2 separate regions of the Homo sapiens genome follow, and region 1 is linked to region 2. The links come from fine-mapping of genetic effects on gene expression. A gene starts in region 2. The other region holds a variant in brackets. All regions are shown on one strand. Distances are between the middles of the regions. Region 1 overlaps RELL1 (RELT like 1). Region 2 holds the start of RELL1 (RELT like 1).

Region 1 (8,335 bases), 73 kb after region 2:
AAGGACTATAAGCACTGAATACTCTGTGATGTGATTCCATTAATCGATATCTGCCAAGATGCCGATCTACGCAGGCAGTACCATTGCAGGACCATGGTGTCACATGCACAGCCATCATAACCTGCAAGCGTGTAACTGCAGAATGGTCAGTAGAGCCTGGAACAAGATAAATCTCTAACTAAGAAGTGTGAGCCTTAAAGGAGCACAGATTATTAGTGATTGATCACTTAAATGTAGCTCCGGGACTTCAGTGTTAATATTGCTGTCATGTAGCTCTATAAACAACGTTCTCTATTTATTTTATTTAAAAGTGGTCAAGAGAATTATTAATCCGACTGTGTGGTTCCATAGCCTTGTCTTAGAATGAGATCAGAATTCAGTGTTGTGTAGGTGTATACTTTTGATCTTCCCAGGGACTGGGCCCCTTTAAAGTATAGGTTTTTAGCATCATTTAACTGTTCATGCAACCACAGTGATTTCCCCTGAGAGAGACCCTGGCAGCATTTCTAGTTTCTGCATTTCCTTTCTGTTGCCTGCCACACAGGTGGGGAGCAGAGAAGCGAGGGTACCAGAGGATTCCAGTGATGCTGTGGGTGTGTCCGGGGTGACTGGATAGCAGTGCAGCATGGAGGTAGCTTTGTGGTCTTCCAGGTCTTACTGCCTGGGATGGATTTCCTACTTTCCCGTTACTAATTGTGTGGCCTTTGGTAAATTATTGAACCTGGAAGCCTCAGTTTCCTCCTATGAAAATAGGAATCATTGACTTATGGAGTCATCGGGAAGATTGAGTTAATGACCCTAGAGTGCTTAGCATGACAGTACCTGGCACAGAGAAAGTGCTCTGCAAATGCCAGTGCTGTTATTATTAATCAGATAGACTTTTTCTTCCTTAACATCCTACACTTAGAGATTTTAGCATTTACTGTTCATTAATCCGCTTAGGCTCCTAGTTTCTTATAACATGTTTCTAATTTTTAAAGGGATCAATTTCTTTTTTTTTTCTAGAGAATCCTTTTTAACAAGGCATAGATATTTGTATGTATATCCTAATCAGAGACATATGGCAGCTTCCGTGGACCCATAGTATAATGAGAGGATTATGGCTTTATCTTTATAAGATTATGTCATAAGCAATAAACTCTAAAGAAAAAGACAACCTCTTCCTTTGTTCCAGATAAATCTTCTGGGCGGTTCTTAATTTTTATCCATCAGTCTTGTTTTATAAGCAAAATGGTTACACTTTGGGATTTCTGAATTCTGTTTTCCATGTAATGGAACTTCGCTTAATTTTTTCCAGCTTGAGTACTCACTTGTGTAAACTGTCATCACAAAATTTCTCCCGAAGAGAGATAGGCCAGGCTTGCTCAGTGTGGTGTGGTCCCATGTGATGGCAACTGGGAACAGTGAGTGGGTGGGTGTTTCCTCTCTCACCCACTCCTGTTAGCCTTTCTGGTGTCTCTGTGCCCACCCACACATGATTTCTGACTGCTGCAGGACAATATGGAAGGCACCTTGTAACACTTTTATTATTGTTCTGGGTTAAAGAAATACCTGGAAGGTCATAGTGTTGTGCCAGTAATGTGCTACCTTCTAATAAATGTGTGTTTGTAATTAGAGACCAGAACTGCAAGGGTTTTAATAAGATTAGCTTTCCCTTTTCTGCTTAGTTTCTGGTATTAGCAGTGAGGACTTTAAGCAGTGATTTGTATTTTTTACTTCCTCTCTCAAAGATATTACAGATAGTGCAGTTTTTATCAGCTGCAGAAGGCAGCTGTTGAAGAAAGCTAATGTGATTGTTGAGAGCAGAGAATTGGATGATGGTAATGACCAGAATAGTTAACCTTTCGGAGCATACTGATTGCTTTTCCTCGTATTAAGCGTTGTGCATAGGATCATCTCATGTCAAATCCCCAGTAACCCTAGGAGAGAATGCTACAGAAACAGCCACGGTTCCACGGCTGGGAGTAGGGGTCTGGATTTGAATCCAGGCCCCTCCTTTTTAGCTTAGCCTGTATTCTTGCATGCCCAGTTCTTAAAGCCGGTCAAATCTGTGCAAAACACTCAAAATGAGGAGTGTTTCTAGGTTGCAGTGAAAACTGTTACTGTGATGAAACATTAGTTTCTAGGCCTGACATCCCCCACCTTTGACGTTGTTATTTTCCTTGATGCAAAAATGTCTAGTTCTAAGGGAGCACATAAAGAGGAGACATAAAAACAGTGGAATACCATACCTGTTTTCTAGATAATGGCCTAGTTTAAGGTTTTGCCTGGAAAATTCCCTCTCATTTTTTCCTTTTTTTTTTTTTAGGGCCATTTTTATATGTCTCTACCTCTGGCCTTTCTACCTTTTTTCCCCCTCTGCTAGAATGTTTATATGAATTGACACCTACCTGAAAGTAGTTCCAGACTTGACTTTGTTCAGTTTTACAGTAAAAATCTGCAGTTCTTGTACAGTTTTGGCAATTCAGTGCAGGGTATTACGTATTTCATTAGAATTAAAAACTTGATCCATGCTGTTTTATTGGACAGTGTTTCCTTTTTAGCTAAGGGGATAAAGGTCCTTTACTCATCATCTCATTTGGGAAATAAATCTCTTTCTTTCTGTCTGTCTCCCTCATTCTTCCTCTTGTGCTCTGTCTCTATTCTCTTTGAATATTATATTGAATATAATATTGAATATTATGGTTGACCAAATGAATATTATATTGAATATACCATTGAATATTATGGATGACCAAATGACAGAAGAGGATAACATAGATAATAATAAGGTACATATCTTGAAGGACAAGCTGTAAAATAAGTAAAAAGTATGTTCTTCAAAACACTTCTAGCAACTTCATGCTATTTCTTCATATTTCTGCAAGCTGGGTCTATCTCTGGTTTTGTTTAGTGTTTATAGGGTACACATGATTTTGGCAGGTGGGAGAACGTTTCGTTCCTTAACCTTGTGTGGGTTCACCTGCATGGTATGTGTATTTCAGCATACACGGGGAGCTCTATAATTTTAGTCCTGTCCTGGGTTATGCCAGTCTGTAAAACAGGAAAGTAAAAAGTCACAGAGCTGTTCATTAAATGAGATAGTTATAGAAAGTCATTTGAAAAGCAGGGAGCTATTTTACAAGTATGGGCCTTTGTTTGTGATGTAAACGTAGACATTGACAAGGGCCAGTTGTTAGAATGACTTAAAAATACAATCCAGAACCCTGAAGGTACAATAAAGACCTAAGATGGAATATTTAATCATTGTGTTCTTACTTGAAATCCCAACCGTGCTGTCTTGGATGGTCAGTAGAGACTTCCAGTGAACTGGCTTTGGTGGGGCTTTAGAAAGACACCTATTGAAGGCACATCACATGGGAAAAGCAGGAGCAAGAGAGAGAAAGGGGGAGGGGCACATACATTTAAACAGCCAGATCTCGAGAGAACTCTTGGAATTAATTATATTTTACTTAAATTTCTTTAGCCTGAATTCTAGAAAAAAATGTACAGTGGTAGAAGGAATGGGGTGGGATGGGATGGGACAGGGTAAGAATAGATTATAATTCTTCTGTGTTTTTAAATATTCAGGCAGATTAATATGTGATATGATGCTTACCCTTGGTTAAAGATCTACATTTTTTGTTTTCTCTTGCAGCAATGACTTGACTTGAAGAGCTCTAAGAGACTGAAAACTTATATGAAGTTGCCTTGGGAATATTTTTATATATTTTATACAGTTTCTATCATGGAGTCAGCAGGCACGTGGATAAAACCTAAAAGGGAATATTATTGCTGTGCCATATACAGAATTCAGTTTGCTTTGAAACAAGTTTTGGTTGAAAGAGTCTGTTGAAAATTTTATTATACTTCCAGGGAAGGAAAGAGCTGTTTTTATCTTCTTAACCACTCCCAGCCTCTACTCTTCCCAGCCCCTAATCCCAGGCCTTGGTGTACACACTGTAGTTTTTCCATTATGATGAGTATGTGCAGTGATACTATTCATGTACAGTCTGAGCTTATGCTCAGGGGTGTGTGTGTATATGTGTATGCATGTGTGCACGTGAGTGTGTGTTTCTTTTTCCAGTTCCTGCATCCTATTTTGACACTGGTTGTAAGAAGATCTTGATACATACAGGTTAGCTGTTACAAAAGATAAAAGATGAATCTTCAGTGGTAAAAGCTCAGTGGAAATAATCTAGTTAGCCCTGAGGAGTTGATTCCCCAAGGGACCATGGAGTCAGATGGGACCAGATGCTAGACTTTGGATTCCTTGACCACAAATTCAGCATTAACTCCTGCCACCACCATGTCACTCCTACAGCACTTACACATTTTGAGAAGGTTTTTTTTTTTTTTTTTTTGAGGCAGAGTCTCGCTGTGTCCCCTAGGCTGGAGTGCAGTGGCACAATCTCCACTCACCTCAATCTCCACCTCCCCAGGTTCAAGCGATTCTCCTGCCTCAGCCTCCCAAGTAGCTGGGATTACAGGCATGCACCACCACGCTCGACTAATTTTTGTATTTTTAGTAGAGACGGGGTATCACTATATTGGTCAGGCTGGTCTTGAACTCCTGACCTCAGGCGATCTACCCGCCTCGGCCTCCCAAAGTGCTGGGAATATAGGCGTGGGCCACTGCACCCGGTTTTTTGTTTTTTTTTGTTTTTTTTTTTTTTTTAACCTTTAGCTGAGCGATTCTTGGTTAATCCATTGAATAAAGGAGAAAATGGTTGAAAGTCACACACACACAAATTTGTTTGGACAACCCAAGGCCAAAACAAAAGAACCCTGCTTCTCTCTTTTTTTTTTTTTTTTTTTTTTTTTGAGGCGGAGTCTCGCTCTGTCGCCCAGGCTGGAGTGCAGTGGCACGATCTCAGCTCACTGCAAGCTCCACCTTCTGAGTTCACGCCATTCTCCTGCCTCAGCCTCCTGAGTAGCTGGGACTACAGGTGCCCACCACCACGCTTGGCTTATTTTTTTTGTATTTTTAGGAGAGACGGGGTTTCAC[C/T]GCATTAGCGAAGATGGTCTCGATCTCCTGACCTCGTGATCCACCCGCCTCGGCCTCCCAAAGTTCTGGGATTACAGGCTTGAGCCACTGCGCCCGGCCTAGAACCCTGCTTCTCATATAAGATGGGCCTGCACCTACCTCTGGCATGTTTTTCTTTGTGTATTTCCTGTTTTTCATCCTGTAACTAATGCTCATTATTTAAAACACTCCAGTTACTTTTCCCTTTAGGCCTGGCAAACTTTTCTTTTTCTTTTTTTTTTTTATAACTGTACATTTTACAAAACACCTGAAAGGACCCAGAGGCATAAATAGTATTACATGATTTATGGTAGCTCTGGGGTGAGCTGTGGGGGAGGCCAGTTACAAGGTCTCCAAGACCCGCCTCCATGTCAGTGTTGGGGGGTGCCTTGAGCACTTCTTTTATTTCATATAGGAAAATGCACATCTTTCATTTGTCTCCCAAAAGATGATTTCCATAAAAATATACTTCAAAGTATTTACTGTACATAGACTTCAATGATTTTATTTCCAGCATCAAACTAAACATTTCTAACCTTTTAAATAAATGGGGAATTTAGTTTCATGAGAATTTTTACTGACAACTAATAAACACTGTATGTGTACATATTCATATACACTGTGGACTGGAGAAAGTCAGTATGGAAATAAATTTCACTGAGATCCAGAAAGTAGCAATATAGGACTTTTAGGGGTATGTATTAGTGTAAATAATATATGTGCAGTCTAGGCTAATCATTTTAATTAAAAACAAATAAGCATACTTTTTTGCTTTAAAAATATGCCCTCAAAATGGTGGGGGATAAAATGTAAGATATTCTTTAGCTTTAATTATTTTTCCATCTTATTCAAGTCAGAGCACTTTTTTTTAAATAGCAATACAACAGGCAAGAGAATACTCAAAAATATTTAAAACTGTATTGATACCAAGAGTATGTTTTAAATATTTTCTAATAAATACTTGAGCGGTTTTTGTCTGGCAGGCTTCCAAATTTGCCAAAATTAAGCGTTCAGTATTTTCAACACATACGCTTTTTACTGGTTTATACTGAACTATCTGATGAGAATTCCTGTGTTCCCAAAGCAACTGATGTTTACAGGTCTTGTGTTACTCCTCCTCCTTTCTAAGGATGAGGGAATCCACAACAGACTTTCTCTAGAAAACACTAATGATGGACAACTTTTTGGTGTCATCAATGAGTTGGCTACTACCTTGATGTAAAAATTTGTAAGGAAAATTTTCACCATTTCGAGTGTCAAGTGTATTTTTAACTGTCTGGTTTGTACTTTTATGACTTTTGTACTACCAAAGCGGAGTTAAAAATAAAAATGTTAAACGCAGTGTGTTGTCTTGTGGGTGATCCAATTATTGGCGCCTTGTACACTGGAAATACAGTCGTGGCAGTATAATTATTGAGCTTAATTTTTTACAGTGCTGAATTTCTTGTGTCTTGAAATATCAAGTGATCACTTGGCTGACTTTCCTCATGAGATTTCCCCTCCTGCAGTACCCCTTCCCCTAACACAGGCATACTTTGGAGATACTGTGGGTTCAGCCCCGGCCTACTGCAGTAAAGCAAATATTGCAATCAAGCCAGCCACATGAGCTTTTTGGTTTCCCACTGCATATAAAAAAGTTATATTTATACTATACTATAGTCTATTAAGTATATGCAATAATATTCTGTCAAAAAACATACATACCTTAATTTAAAATACTTTTTATTGCTAAAAAAAAATACGATAATCTGAGCCTTCAGCAAGTCATAATCTTTTTGCTGCTGCAGGATCTTGCCTCAATGTTGAAGGCTACTGACCAGGGTGGTGGTTACTGAAGGTTGGGGTGGCTGTGGCAATTTCTTAAAATAACACAGTGATAAAGTTTGCTGCACTGATTGACCTCACCTTTCATGAAAGTTTTCTCTATAGCATGCAGTACTGTTTGATAGCATTTTATCACAGTAGAACATCTTTCAAAATTGGAGTCAATCATCTCAAAATCTGATGCTGCTTTATCAACTAAGTTTATGTATTATTATATTCTAAATCCTTTGCTGTCATTTCAACAGTGTTCACAGCATCTTCACCAGGAGTAGATGCCATCTCAGGAAACCACTTTCTTTCATCATCTGTTAAGCAATTCCTCATCTATTCAAGTTTTATCATGAGATGGCAGCAATTCAGTTCAATCTTCATGCTCACTTCTGATTCTAGTTCTGCTGCTGTTTCCACCACATCTGCAGTGACTTCCTCCACTGAAGTCTTGAACCCCTCCAAGTCATCTGTGAGGGTTGGAATCAACTTCCAGACTCCTGTTAATGTCTCTATTTTTACCTCCTGTGAATCAAAAATGTTCTTAATGGCATCTAGAATGGTGAATTCCTTCCAGAAGATTTCAATTGACTTTACTGAGGTCCACTAGAGGAATCACTGTCTACGGCGGCTGTAGCCTTATGAAATGCCTTTCTTAAATAATTAGACTTGAAAGTGGGAATTAATCTATGGGCTGCAGAATGGATGTTGTGTTAGCAGGCATGAAAGCATTTCTCCCTTTGTACATCTCCATAAGAGCTCTTGGGTAACTGACCAGGTCCTTGTCAATGAGTTATTATTTTGAATGGAATCTTTTTTTCTGAGCAGTAGGTCTCAACAGTGGGCTTTAAATGTTCAGTAAACCATGCTGTCAACAGATGTGCTGTTATCTAGGCTGTTTACAGGCAGAGTCGATTTAGCATAATTCTTAAGGGCCTTATGATTTTCAAGATGGTAAATGAGCATTGGCTTCAACCTAAAGTTGACAGCTATGTTAGCCCCTAAAATGAGAGCCTGTGCTTTTGAGGTTTTGAAGCCAGGCATTGACTTCTCAACTATGAAAATCCTAGATGTCATCTCCTTCCAAATCTGTTTTTTCATTTAGCCACCTTCATCCATGATCTTACCTAGATTTTCTGGATTATTTACTGCAGTTTCTAAATTAGCACTTGCTGCTTCACTTTGTACTTCTGTATAATGGCAATGGTTTCTTTAGTTAATCCTTATGAACTGGCTGGGTGCAGTGGCTCATGCCTGTAATCCCAGCACTTTGGGAGGCTGAGGCGGGCTGATTGCTTGAGGTCAGGAGTTTGAGACCAACCTGGCCAACACGGCGAAACCCTGTCTCCACTAAAAATACAAAAACTAGCTGGGCATAATGGTGCACACCTGTAATCTCAGCTACTCAGGAGGCTGCAGTAGAAGGATCACTTGAATCCGGGAGATAGAGATTGCAGTCACTGCACACCAGCCTGGGTGACAGAGCTAGACTCTGTCTCAAAAAAAAAAAAAAAAATT
Region 2 (8,335 bases):
TTACAGAGAAACTGAAAACAATGAAAATCAGAAAGGACATCACATTGTATATGTTTGTAAATTTGATCCTATACACTCTGATTTTTAATCCATTCCCATCAATCAATAAATTATTCTCACTGAGGAAAAATATGTAAGCAATTGTTGAAACAGAGTTCAAAAAGGCTAGGTTAAACATGCAATGAAGGAATATGAGAACAATACTTTAGATTGCAAAAGAGGAGCTAGTTGGCTGGAGTTCTGCATTTCAGAGGCAGAATAGTGCAAGAGGAGGTTGCAAGTGTGGGCCCAAGGGAGCTGATCCTGGATTTGCATCCTGGTGGTGCCAGGGAGAGGCCATGTGACTCAGGTAAATGCCCTAATCCCTCAGCTTTGAAGTGAGGAGTGTTAACAATGATTCCCTAAATATAAAATCATTGTGAGGAATTGATGAAAGAATACAAAAAGAGTTCCCACCATAGGATTGGGCTAAATCTAAGGGCAGAATGAGGATTATTGTTTTTAATTAATGACAGTTATTCTTAAGAATTATTAAAACTCTACTTTTGTTTCTGAAAAAATGGAAATACAACTTAGTTTTAAGATTTCCATTTTATGTCCTCAGAAGAAATATGACATTCCCTTCATAATAGAGAATAGAAGTTCCATTACATTGGGGTTCTTACTTTTAAAATAAAACAGTGGATTTTTAGATATACATATGTAGAAGCTATTTAAATTGTATGAATAAATCTGTAGGGTTAAGGATATGGAAAATAATTTAAGCTTGATTTTCTTTCTTTCCTCTCTCCTTCCCTTCTTCACTTTCCTCCGTCCCTCCCCCTCTCTTCCTCCTACCCTTCCTTCATTCCTTTAACAAGACATACAAATGCATGTATACGGGGTACGTGAAAGTAAGACATTTATAGAGAGTGTGTCAAGCAGGTGTTATGGAAAGTTTAGGAAGAGAAATTTCAGAGCCCTGGGTTTCAACCCTGGCTCATAGTAGATATGTCAGGCAGATCACTTAACCATCTCTCATCTGTAAAACAAAGGGCCTGGTAGATAATGGGTAAGGCTTAAGTACTAGATTTTTATATTTGAAGAGCCATAACAGATATACAATTCAAATGTGTTGTTAAAAATGATCCCGTCTTTCTTTTTTTTTTTTCTTTTTTTCTTTTGAGACGGAGTCTCGCTCTGTTGCCCAGGCTGCAGTGCAGTGGCACAATCTCGGCTCACTGCAAGTTCCGCCTCCCGGGTTCACGCCATTCTCCTGCCTCAGCCTCCCGAGTAGCTGGGACTACAGGCGCCCGCCACCACGCCTGGCTACTTTTTTGTATTTTTAGTACAGATGGGGTTTCACCGTGTTAGCCAGGATGGTCTACGATCTCCTGACCTCGTGATCTGCCTGCTTCGGCCTCCCAAAGTGCTGGGATTACAGGCTTGAGCTACTGCGCCCAGCCAAAAACGATCCCATCTTTTTAATACTAAGTCCAATCTGTGGGAAAAGAGTGAAACATGATTCAATTTTGAAATGACATTTTACATTTTGATTAGATTTCTTGATTCAAGCATTTTGTTACATTCTAACTTACAAAACCAGAGCTGGCTTTATAAGTGTGTGACCTGTGCAACTGTGTGTTTAGGAGGGCTCCACAATCGATTTAATGTTGTGTTGTTGCCATCTTGAAATTCTTAACGATTTTTGAACAGAAGGCCCTGCCTTTTCATTTTGCATTGTGCCCTGCAAATTTTATAGCTGGTTCTGGCTACAACTTCTAATTTATAGTTTAATTTCTAGGTCCGGGATTCTCTCCTGTTTTAGTTAGAAATCCACATGGATCGCTTTCCTCCGCACACATTCTCAATGTTTATGTTGATATAAAACTAGCAAAGGCTGCCTGCTAAGACTGCCAGACTGTAGGATGCGCTGCCAACTGAGCGCAGGACGCGCAGTGCCCTCCTTGGGCTTCAAAGGGCAGGGGCTCCATCCTTCAGCCTCAGCCATCTGTACTGTAGTGGCCTGAGCTTCTGTCACTGGCAATTCCCACATCAATGCAATGTTTGTAATAATAGTCCAGCAGACTGCGTGGAGGACTCGGTGAGAGAATAAATAGTCCTCTGAAAACTAGAGGTTATCAGTCACCTCAAGGATGAGACCCATCCTGTGAAAACCCACAGCCTCCATGCACCCCCTCTTCTTGCTGGTGTTGAGTATTTGCTCAAGTCCTGCCCTAATTTCCTTCAAGCAAATGCTTGATGGCCCAGTAACAACAGTCTCTACAGGGCAGTAAAAAGGAACTATTCAGAGAGAGCCTCTGAGTCCTATTAATGCTTGTGAAGATGATTCAACTTCAGAAAACACTTCTGACCTCTTAGCGTGTGCTGTCTGTCCTCCATCCAGGCGCTGAGGGCACAGCAGCGAGCAAACACAATGACAATGAGATAATTACAATTTATCATGGTGGCCCAGACATCGTGGGTTTACTCCCTGGCCTCTAATAGTCACCTCGCAGAGCTGATGTGAGGATGTGAGGAGATAATAAGCGTCTGGGCATTGAAAGACCTACTTTGCGGGAGTATGCGCAAGGTGCAATACAAGCACACGATTAAAAAAAAAAGGCAAGTTGTTCCTGAAAATGCATAGAGGTATTTTCCCCAATAGGAGCAGCTTAAATGCAAACAAACAGAGGAAGAAATTTAAGTTATCTTTTCTGCTAATTTCCAAACAACAGAACGTGACATCCAGCACAGCATCACTCCCTAGATCTGCAACCGAGGGGAATGCTAGTGGATAGACATGCCAACAGCGAAAAAAGCCTGTGCTCACTCCAGTGCTGGCCGCTTCTGACTGTCCAGTGCTTCTCGGGGCGCGCTCCCTCTTTCTCTTCCCACGCCCGCCTAGTCCCAGCGACCGAGGGAGGTTGCACCCGGGCGACCCTCCCCCCGCCCCGGGCTCCCGCGTAATCCCGGCCCGGCTTGGAAAGGAAGCGGGCCTGGCAAGTAGAGGCACGGCCGGGCCACGGTGGGCAGGGCGCAAGGGCGGGGCTATAGCCTAACTGCGCCGCCAAGGCTGCTGCTGGGTTTGGAAAGGAAGCGGGAGAGGAGGGGTCGGGCTGAGCTGTGGGTGGGGAAAAGGGCGGGGCCATGGATGGGCCACGTGCCTTCTTAGGTGGAGTCCGGGGCTCGGTAGGGAGAGGCGGGGCCAAGCTGAGGTGGGTGGAGAAAGAGGGCGTGTCCATGGCCTAGCTACGCCGCTGAGGCTGCTGCGGGGTTTGGAAAGGAAGCGGGAATGGCAGGGAGAGGCGGGATCAGGCTGAGGTGGGCGGGGAGTCGGGGGCGGAGCCATGAGTGGACCTCGTGCCGGCTTAGGTGGAGCCCGGGGCGCGCGGGGAGAGGCGGGACCGAGCCGAGGTGGGTGTGGCGTGGGGCGGGGCAATGGCGGGGCGGGGTTCGCCGCTCCCTGGGGCCCAGCCCAGCCACTCGATCAGCCCGCCGGCTCCGGAGCGGCTCTGCCTTCCCGAGCGCGGGACGCGGCGCCCTGGGGGAGGAGGGCGAAGCGACGCGGCGATGGCTCCGCGGGCACTCCCGGGGTCCGCCGTCCTAGCCGCTGCTGTCTTCGTGGGAGGCGCCGTGAGTTCGCCGCTGGTGGCTCCGGGTGAGTGTCCGGTCGTAGCCGGGGCGCCGGGTGCTGAGCCCGGTCCCGGGAGCGCGGAAGGAAGCGAGGGGTCGGGACGGCAGCCCCGCGGCGTCCTGCTTTCTGGCACAGCCGCGGGATCCCGGCACTGAACAACTGGCTGTCCCGCGGCGGTCCGGGCAGGGCGCGGTGCGTGGCAACGGCTCCCGTCCCTCCCCTCCCGCGGGCCCCGCTCCCGCCTTCCCTCCCTGGGGCCTCCTCCGAGGATCTGTGTTCCCCAGCGCTGGGCAGTGCGGGGCGTAGGGACCAGGCCTTCTTCGGGGGCGCTTCCTCCACGGCCGCTCGCCTCGGAACCCCGCGGACCCGTTTCCCGCCGCCCTTGTCCTCAAAGGCGCCGCGAGCGGAAGATCGTGACACAGAGCACCGGGTGCGCTGTCGGCGCCTCCTTCTCCCTTTTAAATACCTTAAAATATCCTAAAACCTGGAGGACTTTGAATCTCTTTCCACGTTTCCATTTATTTGGGTGGTTGATGGATTCTTGTAACAGGTCAAGGAGTCCACATTTCTTCCCATATATCCTGTATAAATCAGGCTCGGAAAAAGGGAAGGCGCGTTGGTAAACTTACATTTTTTTCTTCTTTTTGTTGATTCCTGTCGTCACGAAAGGAACCTTGTGTGGTCAGGGCAGGAAGCCACCAACAGAGATGCTAAAGTGTCACCAACGATGAAGCAGTTTTTAATTGAAATCAATCTTAAGAGGAGGTGTAAGTTTTATGGAAGTCCTATGTCACATCCTTGCTTTTATAATTACAGACACTAGGGATTCCTTACCACCGCTTCCCCTCTTAATTGCCACCTAACAGCTGCAGTTAAAAAAAAAACATACTTACTTGGCCATTTGGGGTTACTACAGCTGGGAATCTGACGTCAGCAAGCTCTTCCAAGCTTGATTTCAGCGGTGGTTCCTCCTCAGGCCCAAATAATAAGCAACTGGAAGCCTTTCAACAGTGACTGTCTCCTCCATAAACATCCATAAACTCTTCCTCCTGAGAACATTTCAGTCGCTTACAACTTTTACACTGACTTAGCAGTTTGGCCTTCACTTTTTCATAGAAACCAGAGCAGGTTGGAAGGGAAGGAGATGGATAATATTGTCTCCTGAGTCTTTTTAGCAGGCCCGTATTTCCGTTAGCCATCCACCTGGGGAAATGGCAGCTAGTGACATGTTTTACTGGATGGGACAATTTTTTTTTTCTTTTCCTTATTTTGATACAGGGGCTCATTTTGTCACCCAGACTGGAGTGCAGTGGCACAACCTCGGCTCACTGCAACCTCCAGCTCTCTGGTTCAAGTGATTCTCCTGCCTCAGCCTTCTGAGCAGCTGGGATTACAGGCATGTGCCACCATGCCCGGCTAATTTTTGTATTTTTAGTAGAGATGGGGTTTTGCCATATTGGCCAGGCTGGTCTCGAACTCCCGACCTCAAGTGATCCTCCTGCCTCGGCCTCCCAAAGTGCTGGTATTACAGGCATGAGCCACCATGCCCTGCTGGTTCATTTTGATTTTCATCCTGCGTTTGATTGCTGGGACACATAGGTGCATAATCAGGTTCCACTTGGATGTGAGGTTGGAGACATTCATTAGAGGGTTAGAGTCAGTTGCAACAGAATCTGGGGAAGAGTTTAATCTGGGAGTAAAATTATTAAAAATTCAGCACATGATGCATGTAATTAGCCATCATCAGCAGGAGAAATCCATCCCTAGAGTGGGTGTGTGTTTGGTTTGACCTCTGAGCAACACCCAGGTCTCAGGACTAGAATGTGACTGATGAAAGCTCTCATCTAATTGCATGACAGCCTTTTTTTTTTTTTGATGAAAATTAATGCGGAAGAAGAAACAGGTGTCTAAAAAGGAAAGGATACAGAGCACAAATTTGCCAGTATCTTGAGGCGTGTGTAAAGAGAAGATGCTCTGACCAGCCAACATCTGATCCCCTTGCAACCAAAGATGGTGTTAATGTTTGTACCTTGAGCATAGGGAAGTAGAGGGAAAGGAATGGGAAATACTGTTGAGTGCCTGCTGTGTGCCAGGCTTTGGGTTGAGTACTTTGTATGCATTTTTATTTTTATTTATTTTTTTCTTTTTGAGACGGAGTCTTGCTCTGTCGCCCAGGCTGGAGTGCAGTGGCGCGATCTCACTGCAAGCTCCGCCTCCCGGGTTCACGCCATTCTCCTGCCTCAGCCTCCAGAGTAGCTGGGACTACAGGCGCCCGCCACCATGCCTGGCTAATTTTTTATATTTTTAGTAGAGACGGGGTTTCACCGTGTTAGCCAGGATGGTCTCCATCTCCTGACCTCGTGATCCGCCCACCTTGGCCTCCCAAAGTGCTGGGATTACAGGCGTGAGCCACCGCGCCCGGCCGCATTTTTATTTGTTTATTTATTTTTATTTTTATTGTTTTTTGAGACAGAGTCTTGCTCTGACTCCCAGGCTGAGGTGCAGTGGTGCGATCTCAGCTCACTACAACCTCCACCTCCCAGGCTCAAGCAATTCTCCTGCCTCAGCCTCCCTAGTAGCTGGGATTATAGGCGCCCGCCACCATGCCTGGCAAATTTTTGTATTTTTTAGTAGAATCGGGGCTTCCCCATGTTGGCTATGCTGGTTTGTAACTCCTGACCTCAAGTGATCCGCCCTTCTCGACCTCCCAAAGTGCAGGGATTACAGGTGTGAGCCACCGCGCCCAGCCTTCATAGGCATTTTTAAACTCATTGCTCATAACCCTGTGAAATACTTACTTCCAGTAAGGCAACTGAGGCAAGAGAGGTTAAACAACTGGCTGAACATCACATAGGTACTGTGCCAGTCAGCATTCAGAGAAGCAGAACCACTAGGAGGTGTCTGTGTATGTGTGTACCTTTATATGTATCTTTATCTGGGATAACCCAGCCTGCTTGATTCCAAAGTTCATTCCCTTTCCACTGTACCCCACTGCTCTGCAGAGGAAAAATAGAATATGAGTCAACCTCTGCAATCTCGCTGAGATTCTAAGATAGTTTAGAACGTCATAAAATTGTAAGCATGTGGTTATCAGAAGTTGTCAAGTAGAGAAAAGAAGGGCAGATAGCTTCACGGTGGGTAGTGGCAATGCCTTTTTCACTTCCTTCCTAGTAGAAGAATCTCATTAAACTTGTCTCTTAGCAGCAGCATTCGAAACTATATACCACAAGCACCCAAAGGGATGATTTTCCACGTCTTGGCTTATTAATGTCCTTAAGTTCTCTGGTTACTCAACCTTCAGGTTTATTAGTTTCTCTCTCAGACAGTGGGCATAGCCCTCGAGTAAGGAGTGGGTGGAAGAGGTCCTGGGGCTGGTGAGATGAAAAATGCATTGTCCTTGGGCTGCAGGCTTCCCTCCAGCATTCTGACTCCTTTTTAGAAACTAAAGATAAGCTTTATTAAATTCTGGGGTCTCTCTTAGCCAGGTAGCTGCGAAGCTGTACATCCACATAATATATAGTGTTTGGAAAGTTTTGAAAAAGCACACCTTGGAGCTTGGGAGTCCATATCTACATTTAATTTTAAAAGGAAATGAAAAATGTGAGAAGTCTCTGTCAATTCCCTGCCCCTACCCCCTCTAAAAATGGAAATGAAATGAATCTATTTGGAAATTTGAAGAGTTGAATTTGAATGTGAGAGACCAAAGCCCCAAGTGAACAAACAACAGATTTTATTGTTTCTTTAAAAATGATTCTTTGGCCCTAATGTTGAAGTTTAATGACTTATTGAAACAATAGAGAAATGATTTAAAGCTGACAAAAAGAATAAATTAAATTGTCATTGGTATAAACTATTAGGTTGAGTGGTTCCTAATAATTTCGGACACTTAAGTGGTTGTAAAGATTTGGTGTGCTGCTGAAAGCGGGTATATTAATAATTCTGGTGTGATTTATAAAAACTAAAATCAGAATTTGGTGTTAGTACACTGTAGACACTTTACTCTTTTAGGAAAAAGGAATTCAATTTTTATTATTACCTGGTTTGTGTGCAGGCGGTAGTCTAAATACCTAGATCATTTCATTCTTACAATTAATTTCCTGTCAGTTATATACATAATTTTATTCCTGTGTTTGTAGATGAGGAAATTGAGCCTCAGAGAAGTTGAAAAAGTCACTCATGTGTAAGCTGGATTTTGTCATGGAGTCCATTGAGTCAGATCTGTTTGATTTTGAAGTCCATGCTTATTATTACTAAACTATTTTTTTGAGTAAGAAAATTCTTTTTATTCTAACATATTTGTAAAGAATCAGTAAGTAACAAGGTCATGGGATGCTATGGTGGAAAGAGCACCAAGCCTTAAGTCAGGGCCTTGGACTTGAAGTCAAAAATCAGAAGGAAGCCGGGTGCAGTGGCTCACGCCTGTAATCGCAGCACTTTGGGAGGCCAAGGCGGGCAGATCACGAGGTCAGGAGTTCAAGACCAGCCTGGCCAATATGGTGAAACCCCGTCTCTACTAGAAATACAAAAATTAGTTGGATGTGGTGGCACATGCCTGTAGTCCCAGCTACTGGGGAGGCTGAGGCAGGAGAATCACTCGAACCTGGGAAGCGGAGGTTGCAGTGAGCTGAGATCGTGCCACTGCACTCCAGCCTGGGTGACAGAGCAAGACTCCGTCTCAAAAAAAAAAAAAAAAAAAAAAAAAAAACAGAAGGAGACCCT

The links. PIP is the estimated chance that this variant, and not a neighbour inherited with it, causes the effect.
Region 1: its variant is fine-mapped to the expression of RELL1 in whole blood (TOPMed, PIP above 0.99).

What each region holds. Positions count from the first base shown.
Region 1 is chr4:37,608,645-37,616,979 of GRCh38, reverse strand. RELL1 (RELT like 1) reads left to right here. Exons shown (of 7, transcript NM_001085400.2): 7 at 3,638-6,346. Among named protein-coding and RNA genes, the nearest start is that of RELL1, 74 kb to the left of the region's middle. The variant C/T (reference allele first, on the strand shown) is at 4,988.
Region 2 is chr4:37,681,505-37,689,839 of GRCh38, reverse strand. RELL1 (RELT like 1) reads left to right here and starts at 3,464. Exons shown (of 7, transcript NM_001085400.2): 1 at 3,464-3,640. The coding sequence starts at 3,553. RefSeq lists silencers at 2,766-3,075, 3,256-3,925 and an enhancer at 7,017-7,066.